Linked DNA regions of Homo sapiens: region 1 is linked to region 2. A link means that fine-mapping ties the variant in region 2 to the expression of a gene that starts in the linked region. Tissue or cell type: nasal epithelium. Region 2 holds a variant in brackets; the other region holds the start of a gene. All regions are shown on one strand. Distances are from middle to middle.

The links. PIP is the estimated chance that this variant, and not a neighbour inherited with it, causes the effect.
Region 1: it holds the start of SIDT1, and the variant in region 2 is fine-mapped to the expression of SIDT1 in nasal epithelium (TOPMed, PIP above 0.99). The same link has a PIP of 0.9 or more in cerebellar hemisphere, cerebellum, cerebral cortex, lung and whole blood.

The regions. Positions count from the first base shown.
Region 1 is chr3:113,529,040-113,537,146 of GRCh38, forward strand. It overlaps SIDT1 (SID1 transmembrane family member 1), which reads left to right and starts at 3,516. Exons shown (of 25, transcript NM_017699.3): 1 at 3,516-4,204. The coding sequence starts at 3,983. RefSeq lists enhancers at 2,908-3,127, 3,148-3,337, 3,478-3,807, 4,278-4,407 and a silencer at 4,078-4,127.
Region 2 is chr3:113,594,862-113,602,968 of GRCh38, forward strand. It overlaps SIDT1 (SID1 transmembrane family member 1), which reads left to right. Exons shown (of 25, transcript NM_017699.3): 11 at 6,727-6,798. It overlaps MIR4446 (microRNA 4446), which reads left to right and starts at 15; the gene lies at 15-81. The variant C/G (reference allele first, on the strand shown) is at 4,752.

The DNA of each region.
Region 1 (8,107 bases), 66 kb before region 2:
TGAATGCCAGTCAAATGAAAACTACATTGGTCTGGGAGGACAGCTCAAATTAAAGGCTTATAGGGCCTATGCCTGTGTTCTACTCTATGACAACACTTCCAGATTGCACAATGCAAAACAGAAGCAGAAAAGAGAGAAAACAGAGATGAAAAGGAATAGCCTGACTCCACCAAAGATGCCAATCAAATGGGAAGTGATAACAAATCCTAGGTACCAAAGTGAGACTAAATAGCCAAAGAACTCAAAATCAAAGAGCAGAGTTCAGAACCAGTGCTGACCCAATGTGTCAATGCAGACTCAACTGTGTGCAGTGAGGCACAAGAAGCCTTGGTGGGTACTGCACCTGGCAGAGAACTGGGATCCATGGTGACATGCAGTGCAGACAGTATCTCTGTGGAAACTTCAAGAAAACTACAGAAACAAGTGAAGCTCACACAAATGAAAACAAACAGAGGCTAATTATTCAGAGCTTGCTCTAGCAAGGGAGTTGACCACCATCACTTCTGCTTAGTAGAGACTCAAAGGCAGGAAGGGGAGTGAGAAAACTTCATAGTTATAAAAGGGGAAGGTTTCAGGTATGCTCTGACTGGATCTTGCTGTTGGAAGCTGGAGGCAGGCTAAGTAGGAGCAGGGCATTTTGTGGTTTGGGAAGCATATTTAACTTTCTCTGATTGATCCTAAGTTGGAAGCAGGGGCAAAAATTGGGGAAATTGACTCATTGAGCAAGACCTAATTCTTTTGGGCCATTTGCTGCAGCAGTTGTAGTTTGATTTCTTGGACTGGTTGCTGCTAAAGTGTTTTTGTTTCCTGAGCTGATTGCTGCAGAAACTGTGGGTCAGAGTTAGTTGTATTGCTATTTATGGTCTGGCCATTGCCCACTTGCATATTTAGTCTCTCACAGTAGAATCCTGACATTGTAGATATTAAAAAAAAAAAACTGCCTTTAAAATCAAAACAATTGAACTCATGGAGAAAGAGAGTAGAAGGATGGTTACCAGAGGCTGGGAAGGGTAGTGGGAGAGCTGGGGGAGGAAGGTGGGGATGGATAATGGATACCAAAAAATGGAATGAATAAGGTGTAGTATTTGATTGCACAACAGGCTATAGTCAATAATAATTTAATTGTAAATTTAAAAATCACTAAAAGAGTATAATTGGGTTGTTTGTAACATTATGGATAAATGCTTGAGGTGATGGATATCTCGTTTTCCATGATGTGATTATTATGCATTGCATGCCTGTATCAAAATATCTCATATACTCCATACATATATACACCTACTAAGTACCCACAAAAATTTAAAATAAAATTCCTTTTAAAAATAAAGAAAAAAACCACCTACCTAATGGACCACATTTTATTTTTTAGCTATTGAACTAGCAGTCACACCATAACAGTATTTGTTCATTCAACACTTTAAACTTTTTAATGTACTTTCAAATACATCATTCTCCCTTTTATCCTTACAACAACCTTGTGATCCTGAGAGGTTAATTACTTGAGGTCACTGAATGACTTTTGGCTAGAATAAGGATTAGATAATATTACAGAGTGACTTGTAATATATAACTCAAATTGTTAGGTATAGATAATCCATACAAATGGCTTTAAAATAAATATTTTGGGTTTCATGCTATGATGAAGGATCTGTTCCATTTGCTTCCAATTTAGTTGCGTAAAGTTGAGATAAAATCTTGAAGGAAGGGTCATAGCACCATTTAAATACCCACAGGTCTGTCATGTGGAAGAAGTATTAGGTTTATTCCTATGACTCCAGAGGGCAGAACTAGTACAAGTGAGTAGAAGACAGGCAGATTTCAACTAAGAATATGAAATGTCTTTCTAATAATGAGACACTTGCCCCCAAAAGAAGGTGTTGACTTGTGAAAGAACCAGTTCCTCATCTCTTATAGTGTTTAAAAAGAACGCCATAATAGAACTCCATAATCCTAGAGACTCCTTTAACTGGTCACACCAGCTAACCTCCAGGACCTTCGTAGATTTCAAGTTTATGAAATGTTGTTGAACTTTGAAAAGAGGCACAGATATTTTGAATACAACAGTTTAAAGTCATTCAAATTCTGGATGAAATTATTTCGTTATGCTCCTCAAAAACAGTGAGTTCTATTTGAAGTTTTACCCCCAGACTCTCCTTTGAATTAGTATTTTTGCCCATATACCCATATATTTTCAAGAAATTTCTTTCTTTCCTTCCTTCCTTCCTTCCTTCCTTTCTTCCTTCCTTCTTCCTTCCTTCCTTTCTTCCTTTTGAGATAGGGTCCTGCTCTGTCATCCAAGCTGGGGTGCAGTGGGGTGTTCACGGCTCATTGCAGCCTCGACCTCCCGGACTCAAGCAGTCCTCCCAACTCAACTCCCAAGTAGCTAGGACGACAGGCATGCACCACCACGCCCAGCTATTTTTGTATTTTTTGTAGAGATGGGGTTTCATCATGTTGCCCAGACTTGTCATGAACACATGGCCTCAAGCTAGCCCACCTCCCACTTCAGCCTCCCAAAGTGCTGGGATTACAGGCATGAGCCACTGCACCTGGCCAAGAACATTCAAAACTTTAAAACTGAAAATTGTCCTAATAAGGAGTCTACTAACTTAATCTTCCATCAGCATTGTTTTCTGATTTCACAGAAAACTTTACAACAAATGTATTGCATTCATTCTTGATGTTTTAAGAAATTAAAGGAATTAGACAAGGTAAAAACAAAAACAAATCTATCTCTTTAAAGATGGCAAGGACTAGGATTTTAATCTGTAATCTTAAATTTTTGAAAAAGATCTTTTCCTTCTTAATGACTTCTTTTTAAATGGTCCTTCAGGTTGAACACAATTACATTCTTTTATAGTATACAGTAATGAAGCTGAAATAAAACAGTGAGTTCTCTTCCACACGTAAATTGTGATTGTTCAATGTTCTGCAAGGTCTTCTGATGGCCCCATTCTCACCCTGCTCCTTACCTGCCTCTTTAACTCTTTAAATCTAATCCCCTAATTTTTATCAGAAAAGTATTTCCTTTTTACGATAGGCTGTGGTTTCTGCCTTTAAAAAAACAATCCTGGGGTTTCTCTCAGAATCTGGAAGAAGTCATTGCAATGGTAAAGTAGGTAAGAGGCTGGGGTGGAAAGAAATGCCTTCTGCATAAATCTAGTTAGTCTGAGTCGTTTTTTGACAACTTCCGGGACCAGACTTCAGGCAGTGCTGGAAATTGTTCTCTTTACCATATCTTTTTTTTTTTAACTGTACATATTTACATACATACACATATGGTGAGGGAGAGAACGTGATGACGTGAGACTCTCCATGGAGAGTAGGAGGTAATAAAGAAATAAAACAGGTGTCTGAGGAGAGGTTCTATTAGAGAGGGGAGAATAGAGAGTAATTATCGTTCAGACAGGCAAGAGTTCTCTGCAGGTAGCAGCCTGGGAAAGCGAACTCGCGCACCCTCTTGGGGGACGGGCTCTTTTGCTTTCTATTTCTTCTCCTGCAGCCAGGGTGCACACGTATTTGAAACAGACCGAATTTCCTCCTCGATGTGGCGTCAGGTTGACTTTTCGAGACTAGCGGGTATTTCTTTTTAATGACTCCAATGCCTTTTTATTATTGCTGTTATTGAGGTTGAGGGAGAAGAGATCGGTCTAAATTCTGGCTGGGTAAGTGGGGGGATTCTCGGCGATGAGAAACGGGGGACTTAGAAGCCGGAGGAAAATCAGCAGCCCCACATCTCCACTTCTCCAGTCCGCCCTACTCTCCACCCGTGACCTCCAGTGGAGACCCCAGGCGGCAGCATCAGTATTTGATCGGCCCTTCGTCAGCACGCTGCCAGCCCTGGCCGGCTGGGTTCGCCAGGCATCACCCGCTCGGCTCTGAAGCGGACGCCTGGCCCTGCACCGGGCTTTGGAAGGACCCTCTCTGCGCTCGCCCCCTCCCCAGGGTGGCTCCGCTTTCGAGCCCGGGCGCGGTGCCCACCATGCGCGGCTGCCTGCGGCTCGCGCTGCTCTGCGCGCTGCCCTGGCTCCTGCTGGCGGCGTCGCCCGGGCACCCGGCGAAATCCCCCAGGCAGCCCCCGGCACCGCGCCGCGACCCCTTCGACGCTGCCAGGGGCGCCGATTTCGATCATGTCTACAGCGGGGTGGTGAACCTCAGCACCGAGAACATCTACTCTTTCAACTACACCAGCCAGCCCGACCAGGTAAGACACTCGCTCCCCTCGCTCGACTCCTAGAACTTGCCAGATCTCAGAGCCCCGTCGCTGCTTTGGAGTCCCCTGGGAATTGACCTTGGGAGACTTCGGGGACCAGGGGACTTTCTTTCCCTTTCTCCTCCGAAGCAATCGCTGCCCTGCCCTAGCTGCCTCAACACGCCTCGGGGACAACTCTGCTTCGCCTCGCGCCTCTCCTGGCCTGGTCAAGGGCATTGCTGGGCTTTGCAGAGGCACCAGTTCCCCGCACCGTCTGCGGGTCCTGGGTCCCTGCTGGGTCTTTCTCCAGGAAAGTCCTGATTTCTAGGGTTGCGGGGTGTGGTGTGGAGTGCGAAGAAGAACCGCACCTCGGTTCCTAATCCCCTGCAGGGAAGAAACCTAATTTCAAGTGGCTGATTCAGCCAGACCCTTCTATTTCATAGCGCATGGGGAGGGAGAACTGCTCAGAATCTAAAATGGAAATTGTGTGAAAATGGACGGAAGCTGCAGAACCTCTGTGCATTCAACAGTCACTTCCTGCGTTTTTGTGCCATTGTCACACGTTGTGCTTCAGAGACGCCAGAAGACCTGGGCAAAGACGTGAGAACTGCAGCCATCAGCTGATCAATCCAGGTTTTGATTTTAAATAAGGATGGATAATTGTGTGAAAGTTCTAGACCTATTTTTGACAAAAGTTGAGGGAAGATAAGGAGGGAAAAATGTTCCAGTGACTATCCCTTTGACATATATACTCCGATTATATAACGTAAGAAGATGCATATAGTTCATTTCTTTCCTCTAGTGTGGTACCTCTGGAGCACTGGGCGGGGAGAGAGAGGGAGACAGAGAGAGAAAGAGAGAAAGAGAGACAGAGACAGAGACAGAGACTCCCCAGTGTACCAACCTCTGGATCTTCTTCCCATATAAATGTGTTTATGTATCCCTTACTATACCAGCATCCCCTACCCTCTAGGGAAATTCCAGAACTAGATGATTGGGATACCATGATATGCCTCCGTCTGATTCTCACTCCAGATCGGAACTAGAAAACCTCATCACTTCCCAAAGTGAGGGTGGTTTGTATTGAGCAGGGGGGACCAATGTGCCTAACACTGCTCCTAGACATCTTCCAGCTGTGTGTAGCCAGAAAGTGCCCTGAGTGCCCCATCTCCAGTGTGGCACCAAATCCTATGGCACTGTTACCATGGCAGCACAGCCCTCACCCTGCTCTGTCCTCCAGTAACCTTCAGGTTATATGTTCTGTAGTGAGCAGAGTGGCTGTATGCAGAGCCATTTCATGGTAGACAAGGGAGAGGCTGCAGTTTTTGTTTCCCAAACGCCATATACCCAGCCTCTTTCTATCTAGCGTGGGAGAACTCATCGACTGGTTGACATGTTGCACGTGAGGTGTGTTCCTAGTCCTGTGATTGGCTGGGAGCAGAAAAAAGTCTGAAAACTCCATGATCTCTGGAGTAAGTCTCAGCTTCCCCCTAAATCATTGGTAAGAAAACTCAAATTACATGTGCTAAGTAAATCCTGACATCAGGCTTTGGTATTTCTTGCAGTTCTGCATAGAGATAGAGCATCTACTTATGAATTGTTGCCTTTACATTTTCCCCTTGTACTGTGTGAGTTTTGCACTTGAGATCACCTGGTTGACTTCCCTAGTAAACCTTGAGATATTGAGGGCAGGGGCAAAGTCATGTTCATCTCTGCCCTCCAGTACCTAGCACAGTGAATGGCACATAAGAGGTTTATAAGCCAGGCATGATGGCTCACACCTGTAATCCCAGCACTCTGGAGGACAAAGTGGGAGGATTGCTTGAGACCAGGAGTTCAAGACCAGCCTGGAAAACATAATGAGACCCTCTCTCTACAAAAAATTAAAAAATTAGCTGGGTGTGATGGCACATGCGCCTGTAGTCCCAGCTACTTAGGAGGCGGAGGCAGGAGGATCACTTGAGCCCAGGAATTTGAGGCTGCAGTGAGCTGAGCTCTTGCCACTGTACTCCCACTGGGGACAGAGTGATACCCTGTTTTTTCAAAATGTTTTTTTTTTTAAAGAAAAGAGAGGCTTATAAAAAACATTTAGTGTTTTCCAAAAATGAACAAATAAGTGAATAAAGGGTTATTAGCTAAGGCTAAATAAAATGAAATGTATACTGTTTTCAATTCAATAGTTTGGAAAATGTGAGATCATTTCAGATAAAAACATAAAAACAAATTTCTTTCATAAAACAAATTTGGTTTTTATAAAAACACATTTTAAAAATTGTTCTATTATGCCCTATTTTGTCTGTGTGTGTTAACATGTCCTTTATTTTATGAAACAGTTTTGAAAATATTTTTGAATGACACAGTAAAAGGTTGATGACCCAAGCAGTCCCTAGAATTTTTGTTAAAATATTACTAGTCTGAGAAATACAAAGTTGGGAACCATGGGAACAGGAGATAACAAGAATTTCAATTATTTTAGTGCCAGTATTCTCAATATAAGCCAAATGTCCTCAAATCTTACAGCCTTCTGGGACCAATCTTTAATATGCAAATGCTGTAGTGGAGCCCTCAAAAGCCACTTATTGTGGGAAATTAACCTCCTGTCCTACCAGCCAGTATTCCTGTTGCTTTCTCCAGAGAAGACATTTTCTTGATCTGTCTGTCCAAACCATTACCTTCGGTTCCTACTCTCTTCTTAGTTCTTCTTATCCTGCATAAGATATCAGCAGCCCCTTCTTGCAGGTACACAAGGCTGTTGGATGTAGCAGAATTTTACTGAAGGTTTGGAATAACATAGAGGAATGACATCACAGCACAAGATAGGTGATAGATTAAATCAGAAACCTAGGCCATACTGTTCCGACAATTTACCACCAGGGGGATTTCAAGATAGCGACGCTCTCTTTCAGGCGCTGGTTTGTCACTATCTTCTTGGCCATCCCCTCATACCTCCTCAAATGCTGACCCCCACCCACTAAATTTTTGTTACTCTCCCATGTTGTGCAATTTTTGCCATCATTGCTTATCCTACACTCACTAAGAGGCTCTGTTAAATAGAGATGTATGACCCCAGACCTACGATCTTTAGAGCAGAAGCTTGGACATGACTGGTTTCCCTTTAACCTGAACAAAGTCTTGATAAGGTAAGTCTTTCTAGCCTGCAGGGTCATTGCCCACCTCCCCTCTTCAGTGCAACAAAGAATTTGGTTTAGGGAAAAAAATGGCTAGTTTTTGAGCTTTAATCTTTGTTTTCCTCTTTCTTCAAGCCATTGTTGCTTGACATTATTTTTCCTGTGCCTTGGAGGAGAAAGTCTATTCTAAGTTTAGGCTTAAAGACAGGAAGCTGTTGTGGGAGCCATTGCTCCTAATCTTTCCTGTCAGCCACTGCATCTCCCATACCAAACTGTCCCAGAGAACTATTTTGCCAAGCTTGTGTCATACTAGTTAGCTGCACTCAGCACCAGGAAAAGTCTCATATGCCTTCCAGGCATAGGGTAATGTAAATATGAAGTTGCCTTCAAAAAAATCACTGAGAGAATGGAATGACTGCTTCAAATAAGAATGATGAAAATAATAATTGGAGGTGCAAGTTAGGCAAGATCATGATTCATTTCATTTCTCTGGAAGGAAGTGTCTGGAGACTCTCTTTAAGAGGAGGAGGGCTATACTGTGCAAACAGGGTGTTCTATAACCACAGGGCTCAGCCAGGCTAGAAGGAAACTAACTTGTTGGGAAAGTTGCCAGGGATATGTTTGACTGGGACAGAAGGCACAAATGCAGGTTTACTGGGAAATGAGAATACTCTTGTAGAGACAGTTGGCAGCAACAATCAGATGTTTCTATTTGAGCTAGATGGTGATAAGAAACCCTTAAATAAAATCTAACCACTGGGCAACAGGCTGTCTTCTCTGAGGTTTT
Region 2 (8,107 bases):
TGAGTCCAGTGGCTCTGGTCCATTTCCCTGCCATTCCCTTGGCTTCAATTTACTCCCAGGGCTGGCAGTGACATGGGTCAAGGCTCACACCTTCACCTGGCAGCACCAGAGGGAAGGACCTTTTAAGAAGCCCTCAGCAACTTCTTGTGTTTCATTGGCCTAGAGTGAATCATACACTTATTGTTAAACCAGTCACTGCAAAGAACAGATTTACCTACACATCAGATAAACCTACTTTCAGAATTAAGATTAGGTCCTCTTCTCTAAGACCAGAGTTTCTCAAACTCAATATTATTGACATCATAGGCCAGATAATTCTTTGTTGTTGGGGGCTATTCTGTATCTTATAGGATGTTTAATAGCATCCTTCACTTCCGTGCACTAGATTCTAGGAGTTGCCCCTCCTTGGGACAACTAAAAATGCCTCCAGGCTTGGTGCAGTTGCTCATGCCTGTAATCCCAGCATTTGGGGAGGCCGAGGTTGGAGGATTGTTTGGGCCTAGGAGTTCGAGACCAGCCTAGGCAACATAGTAAGACTTCGTCTTCATAAAAACAAAAAATAAACAAAATTAGGTGGGCGTGGTGGTGTGCACCTGTGCTCCAGCTACTTCGGAGGCTGCTATGGGAGGATCGCTTGAGCCCAGGATGTTGGGGCTGCAGTGAGCTGAGATCGCACCACTGCACTCCAACTTAGGTGACAGAGCAAGACCGTGTCTCAAAAAAAAAAAAAGCCTCCAGACATTGCCAAATGTCTTTTTGGGGGCAAAACTCTTTCCCCACATCCCCCTGTTTGAGAACCATGGACCTAAACACATGAAGACACCTAAATAACACACCAGCTTAGGTAAGAAGTAGGGAATAGGAATATTCACCACACAAAAGTCTTGAAATAGGAAGAAAATAAGGAACCTTTGTAAGGTAGAGAGGCCACAGGGAATGATGGCATCACCCCCAATGTCATGACCACTGGTGAGTCAAGACCTAGATGCTTAAACCAAGAGCAGAAGACAAGCACTGCCCAAGGGAAGAACCAGTGACTTTTTTAGGCATCTCAAACAGAGCATAGAGAAATCAACCAGGAGCAAGAGACAGAGGCAAGTAAGGACCATATCTGGAAGCTAGTGACAGACATTCAGGGAAGAAACAAGGATACAGAAATGTCTTTCTCTCCCAAGGCCAGGATCAGCATGACCATGGGGCACAGGAAGTTCGATGGAGCTCAGAGTTACAGGAAATGCCTTGGGTGCTTATATCCAGAGAAAATGCTAGAAGCAGCTTCTTAAAGGGGAAGAGGATCCCACTAGACTTAATACGGTCTCTGCCCACATCATTGTGGAGCTAGATATCTGTGGAACTTAGCCTAAGGCTTTCACCTTAGACGTGACTGAAGTGGAAGAAATGGAATCAGGTCCCTACAGGTTGCCAAATTGGTGGCAGCTCTGTTGGAGTTAGGAAGGATGCACTCAGAAAATCTGTGCGCTACTCTGCATTTGTTTTTCTTTGATATGCCTGAAGTGATTTAATTAAGCTGTATGTGAAAATCTCCATGTTAGCTCCAACTATAATAAAAAGCAAAAAAATGTATTTCATACTTCATGGGATGAAGAAGAAGATTAGACCCTGGAGCCTGGGTGAGATGGAAATACTGTTGGCAAAGAGCTGCTCCAGGGGACTTGAAGGGACTTTTTTACTGTACTATGAATGACTGGACCCTGTATTGTCTAATTATCCTTAATACCAAAGACAGGGCATCTGTGAGAATCTGAGAGGTACTAAGAAAGGCTCTGTGCTCTAAAACCATTTCCTCCACTGGCTTTATCAGAGAGAAACCCCACATTTCACATCATTGTTAAAGAGCCTCTACAGAAATTCAGTTACCAGCTGAGAAAAATAATGAAGCCTCCCCAACAGGCCTCTGGGACCCCTTGAGTTGCCACCAGGAACTGGGGTACAACAGAAGAGGAGGTTACTTTCTCAAATGCAAGAGCTTGGCAGGCCTAATCGGTTGTAGATTTAAGAACCAAATGGCCAACCCAATCCTTCCCTGGATACAGCCATTACTGAACCAGCCTCTTAGCCAAGAGCAAGATCTGGTGGAGATAAGACAAGGAGAGTGTTGAATTTGGAGGACTCAAGGAACGCAGGCCATTCAGTGACAAAGGGTCTCAAATTTTAGTCCTAGATCTCTACTCTTCTTTTTCTAGTTTTCTTGTCCAGCTTTTTCTTCTAGAGGAATTTTACTTTTACATCCATCTGCAAAGATGATGGTTTTCTTCATTTTTTCTTCAACTATTGAAACAAAACGTGACACTAAGTTGGGATAGGTAGGCAATTGGCATAAAAATAAAATTTTGGCTGGGCACGATGGCTCACACCTGTAATCCCAACACTTTGGGAGGCCGAGGCGGGTGGATTGCCTACAGTCAGCAGATTGAGACCATCCTGGCCAACATTGTGAAACCCTGTCTCCACTAAAATACAAAATATTAGCCGCACATGGTGGCATGTACCTGTAGTCCCAGCTACTCAGGAGGCTGAGGCAGGGGAATCACTTGAACCCGGGAGGCAGAGGTTGCAATGAGCCGAGATCATGCCACTGCACTCCAGCCTGGCGACAGAGCGAGACTCCATCTCAAAAAAAAAAAAAAAAAAAAAAAAATCATGCTAGCTAGTTCCCATCATTTCTGGCTCCCTCTTCAGCTTCCAACCTGCTGAGTCTTCAGAGACATAATGGGACAAGGCAACTATAAATATGAAGTCCCTGAAAGACGCAAACATGCTCAAAATGAAATGAAATTTTTCTCCTCACATAAGGCATTTACCATAAAAAGCAAGCGTGCAAGCATATCCTGTTCTATGTCAGTGAAGTAGACAGATGCAGGGGGCTCAAGCTCAGAGAAACACATATCAAAACAAGTTTCCTCATTAAGATGAGATCATTCACAATCGTAAGTGTCTGCTATTTCCAGCCAGAACATCTTGGTCTGTCTTATAAGCTGATATTTTGTGTTGAATTATGCTTTCTATGTACTATACAGTTAAATATAGATATGGCTTGCCTTCCCAGACCATACTTGACGTTTAGAAGGAAATGCCTTGGTTTTTGCATTCTTAAAAGGCTTTAGACATAAGCAAAATGAAAAGAATACTGTTATCCCATGTTGGCCAATCTCATATTTAATTGGTGCATATAAAAGTCCACAGAATGAAAACATTTTTGCATGCTGGCAATGGTATTGCACATGAAAATCTTGGTGCTCTTATCTGTCACAGAACCCATGATGTTGCAGCTGCCTCAAAATGAACAGGGCCAGCAACAACATCAAAACCAGATCATGCTCAGTGATGAGCCAGAGCAGAAAACAGAAATCAGTGATTCCTTAAAGTCTGAACAGACCTACACAGCTGGCTTTGTCTTTTTAGTGAAGTTGTCACCTAACAAAACACTGATTGTTTTTGTTTGTTCACTTGCTTTGATTTTAGTTTTTGGTTTTTGTTTTTCTTTTGATTACACACACAGACAGAGAACATTGGCTCCCACGAACAATTTCGACCTCCTGCTACAACTGACCTCCAGTATTTTCTTATACAAACTTCAACTTCCCATATCAGAGGACTTCCAGTGACACCAAAATGCACTATGTGCACGTAACATCAAAACATCATGTTGTACATCTTAATATATACAATTAAAAAATCTTTTTTTATAGAAACAAGTTTTCACTGAGACCAATTCAAGGAATCACTATCCATCCACTATCTGAGTGACTGGGCAAATTACTTGATCTCTCAGCATCTCCCTTTTATCATCTTTAAAACATATGGTAATATTATATGATAAAATATATGGTAAAATATATGATAATATTCTCAGCATTTTGTGATTTTAGTGTCATTCTTCATTTACTATTTGCACATTTAATAATTTTCAAAATTACATTTCAAATAAGGACATAGGTTAGTGACTTAAAATAAGGAGCTTAGACCAGGCATGGTGGCTCACACCTGTAATCCCAGCACTTTGGGAGGCCAAGACTGGAGGATTGCTTGAGTCAAGGAGTTGGAGGCCAGCCTCGTCAACCTAGGGAGATTCTGTCTCTACAAATAATTTTTGAAAAATTAGCCAGGTGTGGTGGCATGACCCTGTGGTCACAGCTACTCAAGAGGCTGAGGCAGGAGGATCGCCTGAACCCGGTGGTTGAGGCTACAGTGCGCCATGATTGTGCCACTGCACTCCAGTCTGGGCAACAGAGTGAGACCCAGTCTCAAGAAATAAATAAATAAAATAAAATAGGGAGCTTGAAAAGAGAAAAATGTGAAAGATACTGAGGGGAATGTAAAAGACCTACAACATCATCTAGGAATAAGAGCAACCCAGGGGTTCCATGAGACTCCCTGCAATAAACTAAACAGAAAGAAGATGCAGGATGACCCACGCCAGTGGGTAATCATTGGCAGGCAGCAGCTGCCAATCTAAAAAGCAAAAGCTGTGCTTTTTTAAAATGTGAGTTTATTACAGTGGAGATGCAAATGAGCCTCAACCTCTTTGTCTCTTTAGAAAGGTATTCTTGAGCACTATATGAAAGTAACATATTTACTACCAATTGTTCTTGTTTGAAGGAAAATTCCTGTCTTTTCAGTTAAAAAGATAAGTTTTGTCTAATACAACAGAAGGTTATTCAGCCTTTAAGCAGGATATGCTGCCATTTGCAACAATATGCCTTCCATGGATAAACATGGAGGATGTTATG[C/G]TAAGTGGAATACACCAGACACAGAAAGCAAAGTACTGCATGGTCTCTCTTATATGTGAAATCTTTTAAAAAGTAAAATACATAGAAATAAGGAGTAGAACAGTGAATATCAGGGACAGGGAGTGGGAGGAAATTAGGAGCTGTAAGTCAAAAGGTACAAATCTGCAGGCAGGTAGGATGAATAAGTCTAGTATACAGTAGGAAGAATATATATAGTTAATAATATTGCATTCTATGTTGAAAATTTGTGAAGAGAGTAGATTTTAGGTGCTCTTATAACAACAAAAAAGAGGGAACTATGGAAAGTGATGGATATGTTAATTTGCTTAGCTATAGCAATCATTTCACTATGTGCACGTAATATCAAAACATCATGTTGTACATCTTAATATATACAATTAAAAATCATTTTTTAGGCCAAGCATGGTGGCTCACGCCTGTAATCCCAGCACTTTGAGAGGCCAAGGCAAGCTGATCACTTGAGGTGGGGAGTTCAAGACCAGCCTGGCCAACATGGTGAAACCCTGTCTCTACTAAAAATACAAAAATTAGCCAGTTGTGGTGATGTGCACCTGTAGTCCCAGCTACTCAGGAGGCCGAGGCAGGAGAATCGCTTGAACCCGGGAGGTGGAGGTTGCAGTGAGCCGAGATCGTACTACTGCACTCCAGCCTGGGTGACAAAGTGAGACCCTGTCCCAAGAAATAATAATAATTTTTCATAAAAAAAAAATAAGTTCTCACCGAGACCAATACAATGAAACACTATCCATCCACTCTCAGAGTGACCAGGCAAATTACATGATCTCTCAGCATCTCCCTTTTATCATCTTTAAAATGGTGATAATAATATTATCAACCTCCTAGGGTTGTTGAAAATTTAAAAGACTAAATTCCTGGAAAGAATTTAAAAGACTGTCCTACACAGTAAGTCTGCAATAAACATCAGTCAGTAGTAATAGAGGTAGTACTGGTAGCAGCAGCAGTAGCAGCTGCAGCAGCAAAGCTCTATGCTGTAACTATGGCCAATTCTGTTCTAAGTCAAAAAGAGTCAGGCAAATTGCACACAACATCTTCACATGGCACTGTTACTGTGCTCGAAAGATTTGATCTCTCATACTTAACAGTCTGAAGGTAACCTGTTTCTTTGATTTGAAGTTGGTTGAAAAGCATAGATGGTATTGATGACATGTTACATACTTATGGGTCAGCCCAAGAAAGGCCAGGGAACACCTAATTTCCCTAAATAAGAAGAAATTTATGAGGGGATCTCCAAGCCTAGTAACAGTGCCAGGGAGCATGCATTCTGAGGGCCAAAGTCTGCATTTTGAAGGCCAAGATCTGTGTGCTAAGGGCCCTGGGAACAGCTTAGGCTGCCAAAAATGCTGCGTTAGCCAGAAGCCTTGCTGTCCAGCTGAGCCAGCTCTTGGCTAAACCACCAAAGAAGAAAAGAAATTGGATCTCCAAGGCCATTGCATTAGTCCTTATAATTAAAGTTTAAGTCCAAAACCTGGCTAAAGGTTTTGAGTTTACACTTTAATTATTTTTCTTTATGGGGGAAATTAATGGACACATAAAAAATTTAAAACATGCTAAAAACCTACAAAGCTGGCTTACAAAACTGAGTATTTTTATTGTCCACCAATGGAAATGATGGCTGTGTTTCAGTAGAACTTATACATAAATACTGAAATTTGAATTTCGTATCATTTTTACCTGTCATGAAACATTATTCTTCTTTGGATTTTTTCCCCAGTCATTTAAAGGTTTGAAAACTAATCTTAGTTGAAGAGCCATACAGAAACAGGTGGCAGGCTAGATTTGGCAGATGGGTCATAGTTTTGGTGACTCCTGTATTAGTGTAAAAAGAAAATCAAACCTAAAATAATGTGCCCTGATGATTCAAGCTACTTAGAATAGTGTTGTTTTGTTTTAGCAACTGGACATAAAGTGTTTGCCTCTTCACTTTTTTTAACAGGCTCTGGAAATATGGTGGCATCTCATCCCATTGCTGCCAGCACACCCGAAGGGAGCAATTATGGGACAATAGGTATGTCCTACCAGGTCTGTTCATGAAAGTGTTTCCTAATTCTGCAGAGAATATGATAGAAAGGCATTCCAGCCACTAATAACTGGGAATGTGGGCAAAGCAGCTATCCTATGAGATTGTCTTTTATTTGTAAGATGAGTTGCTTGGAGATTTGGAAGCTTCCTCCCAGCTCTAACTTTCTCCAGTTCTGTTGTTCTGTTTCTTGGATCTGCTAGCCCCACTTGGGCAGAATTCCTTCAATGTTTGCCATCTAATACTAAGGCCCCCTAGGGACTTTTTCATATCCAGCCCGGGTTTAGGGCATGAAAGATGTGTCCCAGGGAGCCTGACATCAATTGACCAGTTGTTTCATTCTCAGGTTTCAGTGGAGTAAGGGGCGATCAGAAGACTGAGGCAGTGCTGCAGGTGAACATGGCTGTAGCCTACCAATCCTTCATTTTGGCTGACTTCATAATTGAACCTGCTCACTGCCACCCAGTCGTTCACATGGCAAACCCCAGTGTTCCTTAAGTGGGCTGAAAAGAATGGAATCCTAGACCTGTCTTGTTAGAGTAGAAGCTCATTGAGCTGCCTGCCCTTCCATATTGCTTGTGGACCTATGAATGGTGCTCTTTAAAATGTCAGTGTAGAGGGACTGGGAATCCTGTATTCCTGCCCTATCATTCTGTAACTTTGAGAAGCATGTGGGCTCAGTGCAGACTACTTATTTTTAGTTCTGTTAGAACAGGATTTTTAAGAAACCATCTGAACAGAAGAAATAAAGCGGAAGGTAAGCTCAGCTCATGTGCCCATCAAGCTGCATAAATCTCCATCTGCTCTGGGAAACATTCATGGGAACAGAAGGATTCTTCTTCCTGAGAATGTTGTTTTCATTATATAATCATAGATACAGCATGTGGGTGATTTCTGTGTACAAATACTTTACCCATGAGAAATGTATAGCTGTTAGATATGTGTGGGCTCACACATATATGCAATAGATGCTATACATAGCGATGTGCATGTGTATTTGTATATATTTATGTTCATATTTTAACATATGAAACATGAAATAGAAGTATAATATTATTTTTGTATCCAAATAGTTAACAGAGCAGATGCCCTTAGATTCTAATATGTGTTCAGTCCTGAAGATAGCCAAGTTAAATATAAAAACAGGAGAAGAGGAAAAATAAAAGTCCATTGAGAAGGAATAGAGAGAAAGAACAGGTCTTGTGAATGAGAAGTTCATTTGGATCAACACAGCATTTCCTAGAATGAGTCTGCACTGTGCTTTTTGCAGAGACGAATGGGCTCCGTAGGCTCTCCA